Linked DNA regions of Homo sapiens: region 1 is linked to region 2. Evidence: fine-mapped expression QTL. A gene starts in region 2. The other region holds a variant in brackets. All regions are shown on one strand. Distances are from middle to middle.

Region 1 (5,380 bases), 46 kb after region 2:
AGTCAGGAATAATAGACTATTAAAGACCACCTTCACTCCTGAGCATAAATGCAAAAGTCCTAAGTAGATAGCAAACCAACTTTACTAATTGTTAAGCTTTCTCTTTAAAATCAGGAATAAGTCATCAATGTGCCCTATAATCATTTCTACTTTACTATATGGGAGACCTTATCTAATATAACAAAACAACAAAAATAAAGCCTAAGAATTGGGAATGAAAAAAATTATTATTATTTGAAGATTAGATAATTAGCTCTATAAACAACCTCAATTTTCTACAGATTATTAGAATAATTAAGAGTAGAATAAGATTGCCAGATCTAAGGATAATATACTAAAGCCAACTGAATTTCTGTATATCCATAAATAATAATTACAAAATTTAATTTAAACAAGTGTATTCTTTACAATAGGAACCAAAAATACACGGTAGTCAGAAATAAATAGAAATAGAAATTTTAAAAAACAAGAAATTAAGATCTTTATAAATTGAAACATATACCATGTTTATGAATAGAAAGACTAAAAAAAAATGTCATTATCCCCAAATTGGTTAGTATATTCAATAGAATTCTGATCAAATTTCCAAAAGAGTTTTTCTTGGAATTTGACAAGCTATTTCCAAAACATATGCACAAGAACGAAGAATCTAGAATAGCTAAAATATTCATAAGGAAGAAGATGAAGGAGGAGGAAGAAGAAAGTGTCTTATTTTCTCATTATGAAAAAAAATTTAATAAAGAAAATGTAATACTGGTATATAAAAATAAACCAGTGGAACCAAGTAGAAGGCCGGCCCAGAACCAGATGTATGTGTGTATGGCTATTTGACATATATGACAGAAATAGAATTCTTGGTCAGTTAGGAAAGAATAAACTATTCACAAATAGTCTAGGGCAATTTTCTGTCTATAAAAGATAAATAAAACTTGAACCTTGCTGAACCTTGCTTCTCTCTCTTTCTTTCTCCCTCTCTCATACACACACACAGACAAACAAATTATTTCTCTATACCTTAAAACTTACTTGTGAAAAATTTAAAAAGTTTAATGGCAGCACAGGAGAACACAGAGTGGGAAAAATTTCTTAAATAATGCATGTAACACTCAAGCAATAAAGAAAAGGATTCATATATTCAAATACAGTAAAATGAAGAACTTCCAATTGAAAGACAACATAAAAAAGTAAAGATAAACTGCACATTAGTTCAGGAAACAATATTTTAAAAATACATGACTAAGAAAATCTTAAAATCTTATCTCCAGAATATGCAAAGAATTCCGATAAAGCAATATGTAAGAGCAAACAATTCATTATTAAAAAGGGAAAATATGAGAGGCATTTCACAAAAGAAGAAATAGGAGTAGGCAATATCCATAGGAAGAGATGCTTAATATTATTAATAGTTAAGAAATACAGATAAAAACAAAATAAAGTTCTCATTTCATATCCATGATATGGAGAAAAGTTTCGATGATTAATAACAAATATTGGAAAGCATATAATAGAACAAGAACATCTAGAGTACTTGTGAGAATGTAAATTGCTACAACTTGTCTGGAAAACAATTAGGCACTGCTACAATAAAGTTAAGGTTATGAGTACACTACAACTCACCAATTCTATTTCCAGGAACATATCACAGAGAACTATCTCTACATGCATATCTGGAGACACACACAAAAATGTCAATAGAGGCATGATTTGAAGTAGACAAAAACTGGAAATCATAGATGGGAGACTAGATAAAGAAATCATCTTAAATTCATATAGTTGTACATAATATTGGTTTGAGAATGAACTGGAGTATCAACATGGATTAAACTCAAAAATAATATTCAGGAAAATGTCACCGAAGTATACATAAAAGCATAATTTATTATCAGCATATAAAAGTAAAAAGGAGATAAAACCAAATAGTGTATTTTTTAGGATGCACATATGTGATAAAACCACAAAAAAGAATTAACGGAATGATGAACACAAGTTTTAAAATACTGACTCCCAAAAAGTGAAGACAGGAATGAATGGTAGTATACTTAAGTTGCAGCTCATTTTCTACTTTTTAAGCCAGGTAGAAAGCATATGCCAATTTGTTTTATTGTTCTTTCTTAAATTGTACATATATGCCAAGTCTCCTCTTATAAACATTTCATAATAAAACAGTTAAGTGTTGTCATTTTAATTTTGTATCTTGAGTAAAGAAAAAAGAATTTGAGCTTGTTTTTATCTATATGGTGTCAAAAGTAGTCAACCTCCCTGTATTCCTGGTGTTTACCAGTGTCTCGGAGTGGTAGCCCCACTGTGATCTCTGGTCTTCCCATTGTTAGCAATTGATCTGACACAATCCCTGAGAATAATATAGTATTATTATATACCACTATATTTTTTCACTACTGCATGTCAAAGACTGAAGTTCTAGAACATTATGGAACACTCACTGTCACCTCATCTTAGACTTAACAAACCCAAATTCCTCACATTTCCTGAAGTTATTTTATTTTATTTTATTTTGAGAGACTAGCTGGGGCCGGACGCGGTGGCTCACGCCTGTAATCCCAGCACTTTGGGAGGCTGAGGAGGGTGAATCACAATGTCAGCAGATCGAGACCATCCTGGCTAACACAGTGAAACCCCGTCTCTACTAAAAATACAAAAAATTAGCCGGGCGTGGTGGCGGGCACCTGTAGTCCCGCTACTCGGGAGGCTGAGGCAGGAGAATGGTGTGAACCCGGGAGGCGGAGCTTGCAGTGAGCCGAGATCGCGCCATTGCACTCCAGCCTGGGCGACAGAGCGAGACTCCGTCTCAAAACAATAAAAAAAAAAAAAAAAAAAAAGAGACTAGCTGGAGCGCAGAGGCATGATCATAGCTCACTGAAGCCTACAGCTCTTGGACTCAAGCAATCCTCCCACCTCAGCCTCTTGAATAGAACTATAGAACTTCCTCAAGTTTTATTACTTGAAACCTACTCTTAAATATTACCCTCTGCATCATTCAGGGTTCTAACTAACCTGATTTTTTTTTTACTAAAATATGCTGATGTTTATTAACCATAGCAAGATACCATCCAAAAATATTATAACTACATA[T/C]TTATAAAAGATGCTATACAAACTATATTTCAGAGACCCAGAAGAAATTTTACAAATGGTATCAATTTCAAATAGGCCCTGGTAAGCTGGCAAGTGGTGTGCATTTATAGTCCCAGATATTAGGGAGGCTGAGGCCAGAGGATCACTTGAGCCCAGGAGGTGGAGACCAGCCTGGTCAAAAGAACAAGACCTCTGTCTCTGAAAAAAAAAAAAAAAAAAAAAAAAAAATAAAGGCCCTGGTATAAAAAGGGAAATTAGAAAATGAATAACTAAATAACTATAAATAAATTTCAAATAGGTCCTGGGTAAGCTAGCAAAGTGGTGTGCATTTCTAGTCCCAGATATTAGGGAGGTTGAGGCCAGACGATCACTTGAGCCAGGAGTTGGAGGTCAGCCTGGTCAAAAGAGCGAGACGTCTGTCTCTTTAAAAATAAAAAAAAAAAAAAGCCCTGGGATAAAAAGGGAAATTAGAAAATAATAAATAACTAAATAACTATAAATAAACATCTACCAAAAAGGCCCTGGTATAAAAAGGAAAATTAGAAAATAATAAATAACTAAATAACTATAAATAAACATCTACCAAAGTGAAAGACTATTAAACACGGTTTACACATTTAATAGACCTTATAGATTTCTACCCTAATGGATTTGCTGTGACAACCTAAATAGCTTGTAATCCACAATCACTGAAGCAGCAATAGCTCTTTGCAGTTATATTTTGAAAACAGGCATATCCACTATGGCTAGAAAAAAACTGTTATTTAAAAGAGTGAAAGGAAAGCCTAAGAGTAATTCATGTAAGTTAGACAAAGAATGGAACATTTTAATGCTAGTTAAAAACAGATACAGCTTCAGTTAGCAAGTGAATAAAAGGTCTTTTTTCTTTCTTTCTTATTCTTGATCACAGGAAAACTGACCTGACGAGGAGATGGAATCACTGACACCGGATGTCTCTCTTAGCAAGAGCAAGGAATATCAGAGGGACCTTTCTAATTCTGATATCTCTTGTCATGTGGTAGCTACTGGACACTGCCCGTCTCAGACAGTTCCTGATTATTGCCCTATAGCACTGGTTCCAAACGACTGTTCCTTCCCTAGGGTCAGATGCAGATACAATTACCTGGAATCAATTCAAGATAAAAGAGTCAGCTTTTGAAATGGGTCAGAAGAAAGAATCACTGCCAATGAGTGAAATCTGGTTGAAAGGCTAAAACAAGAACGATTCCCAGTTTGAAGCTTATTATTATTTCCAATTTTAGGTTGAGAGTTACAGGGATATTGTAAAATTGTAATTTTGAATATTGTAAATAAACAACTTAAAAGTGTTGCCAAAGTAGCTGTGGTAATCATTTCCCATAATTTTCTATTAAGGGTTGAAAATGCCAGATCAGGTGACCGCTTACTGAGGATATTTTCCCTTGGGATGCTATTGGTGTGCAAATGTATGTATGTATCTGTGTCTATGGTGGCATTTAGTTGTTCTTTTGCTGGATTGACTCTTCTATTTGCATTTAAAAAAATCAAGTAGGACGGGTGCAGTCGCTCATGCCTGTAATCCCAGCACTTTGGGAGGCCGAAGCAGGCGGATCACCTGAGGTTGGGAGTTCGAGACCAGCCTGACCAACATGGAGAAACCCCATCTCTACTGAAAATACAAAATTAGCCGGGTGTGGTGGCACATGCCTGTAATCCCAGCTACTCGGGATGCTGAGGCAGGAGAATTGCTTCAACCTGGGAGGCAGAGGTTGCAGTGAGCCAAGATCGTGCCATTGCACTCCAGCCTGGGCAACAAGACGGAAACTCCATCTCAAAGGAAAAAAAAATAATCGAGTAAATCTTATTTAGCCATGAACATTATATAATTAAGTCCTCAGTCCTCAGTTCTAATAGCAATGACTATGAAGAATTATTAATATTTAACAAGTGTTTCTTATCCCTGAATGGGCTGTGCTGCTTCAAGTTCCTGAGGCATTTTACTCTTTATCCTCTCTATCCGGAATACAACTTTACCTTCTTTTTTGTCCTTCACCTTCAACTTGCTACATGGCAGGAATCTGCTAAATGTGCTATATGCCTTATCCCATTTAATCTCACAGCAACACTCTGAGGTAAATTCACCCTCCACTTGATATTTGAGGAAACGAAAGCTTAGAGGGGTCAGCTTCACACATAGCTATAATAATAGACTGTGGCACTGCTCCTCAAAGCCGCCTCTATCTGAGTTGCCTGGATTAAAGCCGTGGCAGTGGAAATTGAGAGCAAGCAGTTCAGACTTCAAAGACATTTC
Region 2 (5,371 bases):
AAGTTGAAGTTTGTGATACAAAACACACTAGCATGTAATAATGTATGCCCCTAAATTATATTTAAAAACAAATTGGGCACCATCAGCTGCAGTCTCTCCAAATAAAACTTACTGCAAAACCAGAAAATGTGTATCAATTCCTCACCTTCAAGCACAGCTTGCTTTGCTCTAGAATCTTTTTACTGGTTTTCATAAATGTTTAATATCATTTCATTAAAAAGATTTTACTTTTTAAAAAGTAGAAATCTAGTAAAATCTATGTGTTAAAAAAATCACTCATTGCTAAAATCTAAACTTAATTCTAAAATTTCTGCTAAGGAAGGAAAGCGTAAGAGTACTGAAAAGAGTAGGCAAGCCATACACCAGGTGTAGCAGATCTAAAAAGTTGGCCCAGCTGTGGAAGACCCTACACATGCCATCTAGTTTTGTTAATTGTGTTTCAGTCGTTCAGGTTATAAAACTACTGTGTGAAAGAGAGGGCAAAAAAACAAAAAAAAAAAAACAAAAAAAACAAAAAAAAAACCTGCTAGTTTCTTAATTCTGAAGTTAGACCAGTTTTCTAGGCTATCTTCCCTTTAGTTCCCAGCGCTCGGATTCTCTCCACTCTGCGCCGGTTGCCAAGTGTTTCAAGTTTCCAAGAGCCGAGAGAGGAGTTGCCAGTGCTTACCTGTTCCCTCGGTATACAGGGCAGGGAGGTCCTCCGATGGGACTTGCTGCTGCAGCCGGACATCTCGGCGGACACGACGGAGCTGGACCGCCTCCTCCTCTTAAACACCGGGATATCTTCCTTGGTCCCAGCAATCAGCTGGGACCCCAAATGCTCCCTTGGAGCCGCCTCCGCGGACTGCGGCAAGATTTGTTCCACGTACCTGGCCAAGAGGATCCCCAGCACGCCGGCCAGGTACGCCAGGTAAGGTCTCCAGGCGACCTTGAACCTCTCTAAGGAAATGAGGGACACGGTCCTGACCGCGCTAGTCAAGGCGATCATGAGGACGCCCAGCCTCAGCCTCAGCACCAGCCATGTCGCGGCGGCCAAGCAGCTGAGCACCACCCCCGCGGCGGGGAGTGAGAGTAAGTGATCCTCCCCGACGCCCAGCCCAATCTGGACGAGCGCTTCCCCCCCGCAGCAGGCGGCCAGCAGCGCGACAGCCAGAGGCAGGCGCACCCCGGCGCGCAGGAGGTACAAGCCCATCCAGAAGAAGGCACACAGGAGACTGAAGAGCAGCGCCGAGGGCTGCAGCCAGGGGCTGAGCCGCGCACCGCCCCCGGGAGCACCTCCCCGAGGCCCCGGGAAGACGCCCCCTTCTGCTCCCGGGGCTGCTTCCTCCTCCTCCGCCGCCGCCGCCTCCTTACACTGCTCCAGGTCACAGCCGACCTCCCCGCGGACCAGCCTCACCAGCAGCGCCAGCAGAAAGGACAGGGAGCCCGCGCACAGCGCGGAGGAAAGTTTCCGAGAGCTCCGGAGCGGCTGCAGCACCAGGTCTCCCCAGCAGCCACGGCAGCCCGAGTCCCGCGGCGATGCGGGGTCCGCACGATGGTGGCAGTCCCGGCCCGCCGTGGGGGCTTGACTCACCCCACTGTGGACGGGCTTGTCCCTGACTCGTGCAGCGTCGCCGGGCACTGCCATGGTATAGGGTGCCCTCTTCACTGAATTCCCAGTGGCCCCCCGACGCCCCCGCCCCGACCCACGCGCGCGCGCGCACACACACACACACACACACGCACGCACGCTCTTCCCAATTCCACCCTCGGAATCCTTCTTCTCCCCAGGCCCACAATCCACTGAAAGTTTCAGCTTTCGAATAACTCCTGGAGAATGCTAGATGCTCCAATGAGACTTCTTCAAGTTAAAGGCTAGCACGCTCAAGTTGAAAACAAGCACGGGCAGAAACGATCAGGATTCCCCTTTTCTCTCTTTGAATATCTTTCACAGATTCTCTGCTCCACCCCCACCCCCGACTTATATCCTCCGGGGTCTCTTCCTACTTCAGGATTTCAAAAATTGCCCAATGCATCCCGCGCGCAGGAGCCGCTGACGCTGGAGGAGCCGGGGGCGCAGGGCGGGCTCCGGGCCATTCCGAGGCGCAGCTCGGCGCTGCGCTGCGCTGCAGCGCGCCGGGCCCGCGGCAGATGGAGGTCTCCCTTCTCCTCCTTCCTGCAGCTCTTTTTCTATCACTCTTTCTTTCTCCTCGGCCGATTCTCCCCGGCACGGCCCCAGGACGCGAATCGCCATTCCCTGGGGCAGAAAGCAAAGCCTCCCCCGCCTCTGTCAATCCAATTCATGGCAAAGGATGGAAAAAAAAAAATGGACAAGGGGCTGAGAAATAAGAAGTTGCTAAGTCCCGTCGGAGAGAGAGCCAGACCGAGAGACTAGCGGCAGCCGCAGAAGGGAGGGAGGGAGAAGGAGCGAGTAAGAGAGGAAGGGAGGGTGAGAAGAAAGGGAGGGTGAGAAGGGAGAAGGAGATTTGCTTTTTTTTTCCCTCCCCACTTCTATTTGATGCAAGGTTGGTGGTGATTTGCAGTTTTGCAAAGGGGAAACGAGTGGCGACGACTGCTTAAAATTGTATAAAACTGGCAACTGGAGTGATCGACAATTCCGCTTTCTTTCTTTAAGGCAACTCCCTAGGAAAGCTTTCTCAGCCGAGCTCCCGCCCCCTCCTGCGGAGGAGGCGCTACCCTCAGCTCGATTGCTCCTTTGCTGGGAAAGCGGCCGGTTCACCCTACAGGCTGGAGCAGGGGCTGCTGAGGCTGATCCACCGCGCAGCCCACCGCAGCCCCGGGGTGTGGGGGGCTGCGGCTAGCCCTGAGGCTGAGCTCCCTAGAACGTTGGAAGGAAAAAAAAAAAAAAAAGATTGTGTTTGCCTACTTGGCAGATGAGAGCCAACATACTTTCTACTGTCCCTGAAAATGACAGCCACTTCTACTGTCTGATTCAAAGATGTTCCCAAGTCAGGTACAACAGCAGTCCAATTTCAGGTGACAGTGTCATCCTTTGGTCGCTCCTGCTGGAAGGTCTGCTTTATGAGAACCCAAGCCTGGCCTGTTGGTTCAAATGATGGAAGAATCAGCCTTACCTAGACCACAATAGTATAAAAAGAAAGGAAGGAGAGGCAGCAGTCATTTAAATCCAGTGCATGAGTATTACACAATAGTTTTTGACTGTGGAAAGTAAAATTACATTGAGATTAAGTGACCGTATCCTCAAAAAAGGTTAACAAAGTTTAAAAGCCCAGATAGTTCATCAAAAAATAAAGAAAAATCTCAAGGGAGAGGTGAGGATAGGTGGGTTAACACTAGGAGAGATCTTAGAAGACTGTCTATGGCTGCAAAATACTACATCTTCGAGCAAAGCATATGAAAAAAATCAGGACCTTAGTTATTAATGAGTAAAGGTTCGTGTACTGCAGCAGTGTGATATTTGAGAAACTAAAAGAAAATTTTCAAGCTAACCTTTTTTTGGCAGATTATGAAAAAGAATTCAGTATCTGTTCAATGGACTTAAACTCTATTGATGTTCCCTGGGATCTAGTTGTCTTTTTAATATGATACTCCACTTTTAACATGGCTATCTTAGATGTCATTTGCCCTCACTAATAATAATCTTAATAATCCAATTTTGTCTTAATTATCTTGACATTCCAGGTTAAAGTGTATTTACAGCCTAGAGCATTTAGATAATTGATTCAATATGCCACTGTATTTTGTATGTAGACATGAAGCAATAAAAAAAGCCAAAAGGAGATCCTTGAGATAAAATTAATTTATGGGGACAGGGGGAGAAGATGACTTAAGTTTTAAACAGCTTCATGGGAAGCAGCCTGTTCTAGTAGAAGGCAGATATACTATAAAGGTATAGCTTCTCTCTGTCAGATGTCCAGAATTGTGCTACCACACAGGAGTATGAGTTGGGCAGCTAGTCAATGGCAGTGGGCACCATCTGTTTAATAATTAAGGAAACAGGAGCAGCAATGTCTTTGCCAAAGACAAATGAGCCCCCTAGCACGCACACATACTTTCATGAGTTTCCTTTTTAGACATATGATTCATATGCCAGATCCTACCTGGGACACATCGGAGTGAAAAACCTTGATTGGAAAATCATTCATATCTGTTGGCATCAAAAATAACATATTAAAATAATAAACCAAAAATCTGGCATATATCAAGGTTAAAAAGAAAAGCATAGTAAGGGAAATTTTAGAATATTTCAATTTTATCTGTCCCCTACCCCCACAATTATCTCAGTTCTTTAGAAAATTTAATATAATATTATCATAAAAACTGAACACTTAAGGTATGGGAAGCAGATGTTTTTTAAAAGTTGTAACAGGAAAAAATGGCATTTGCTAATGGCAGCAAAACAAGAATATTCTAAATCCATGTGTTAATAACATCCTGGAACTCTTCAATAAAATAAGGAGGCAATGTCCTGGCATCCAGGTTTCTTTAACAAATCATAATCAAAAAGTTATTTGTCCCATCAAAAGGAAAGAAGGTAGATTTTTCTCCCCATACCATCCAGAACCCAGAGGCAAGTGAACAAAGACAACAAAATGCTAATGTTAGAGAGATGCAGAAACCTGCAGGGCTATACTAACTGAAAGAAGCGACTAATAATGTACCTTTAACAGAGTATATTAAATGAAATAAGCTGCAATACATAAACTGGATAGGGAGCAATCACATATAAACACTGCCTCTTTTCTACAGATAGTGGTGAGTCCTAGTTCAAGAAAGTGACAACACAGCCAAAGAATAAGGAAAATGTTGTACGTGCAGAAAAATAGTAGAGCATGGACAACAGAAATAAAAATTTAAGTTTTACTTGATAAATCTTCCACTTAGTCAAATCTAGCAAACATGTTTTTACAGTTTTTTGGGAAAAGGATCTAACCCTTCACATTTGAGCTTTATTAAATATAGTTAAGCGTCAGGGGATTCTATTGTAAAATTCAGTAAGTTTACGTTCCGTAGTATGGGTTCAATCATTCTCTGCTACCTATCTGATTATTATATATTTATATCTAATAGGTACCTAAAACATAAGGTATCCAAAACAAAATTCTTAACTTACAATTCCCTTCCTACCTATCCCCTACCCACCCAAACTATATTTTCTCAATCTTGTTACATCCCAGTAAAGAACATAACCATCTACCTAGTTGCTCAGGCCCCAGAAGAGGGAACGGGTCTTGATTCTTTCCTTTGTTTATCTTGTTTTACTTTTAGTCGATTAGGAAATCCACTTGATCCTGTCTCTAAAATATATTCTAAATCCATTTACTTTTCACTGTCCCTCTTATAATAACCTGCCAAAGACCCATCATCTTCCTTGGCCAGGACAAGTGCAGTAACTAACTGATCTTGCCCT

Alleles and levels. Positions count from the first base shown, and alleles are read on the strand shown. Sizes are in standard deviations (SD) of each study's normalised expression.
In carriers of allele C in region 1, the expression in subcutaneous fat of the gene that starts at base 2,375 in region 2 tends to be lower than with T alone (moderate effect, 0.64 SD a copy in TwinsUK).

Evidence for each region.
Region 1: its variant is fine-mapped to the expression of PDE3A in subcutaneous fat (TwinsUK, PIP 0.95).

Annotation. Positions count from the first base shown.
Region 1 is chr12:20,319,483-20,324,862 of GRCh38, reverse strand. LOC105369688 (a long non-coding RNA gene) reads left to right here. Exons shown (of 3, transcript XR_931419.3): 3 at 4,001-4,047. Among named protein-coding and RNA genes, the nearest start is that of PDE3A, 46 kb to the left of the region's middle. The variant T/C (reference allele first, on the strand shown) is at 3,091.
Region 2 is chr12:20,365,541-20,370,911 of GRCh38, reverse strand. PDE3A (phosphodiesterase 3A) reads right to left here and starts at 2,375. Exons shown (of 16, transcript NM_000921.5): 1 at 668-2,375. The coding sequence starts at 1,627. It overlaps PDE3A-AS1 (PDE3A antisense RNA 1), which reads left to right and starts at 656. Exons shown (of 2, transcript NR_186033.1): 1 at 656-1,071. RefSeq lists a silencer at 1,043-1,337.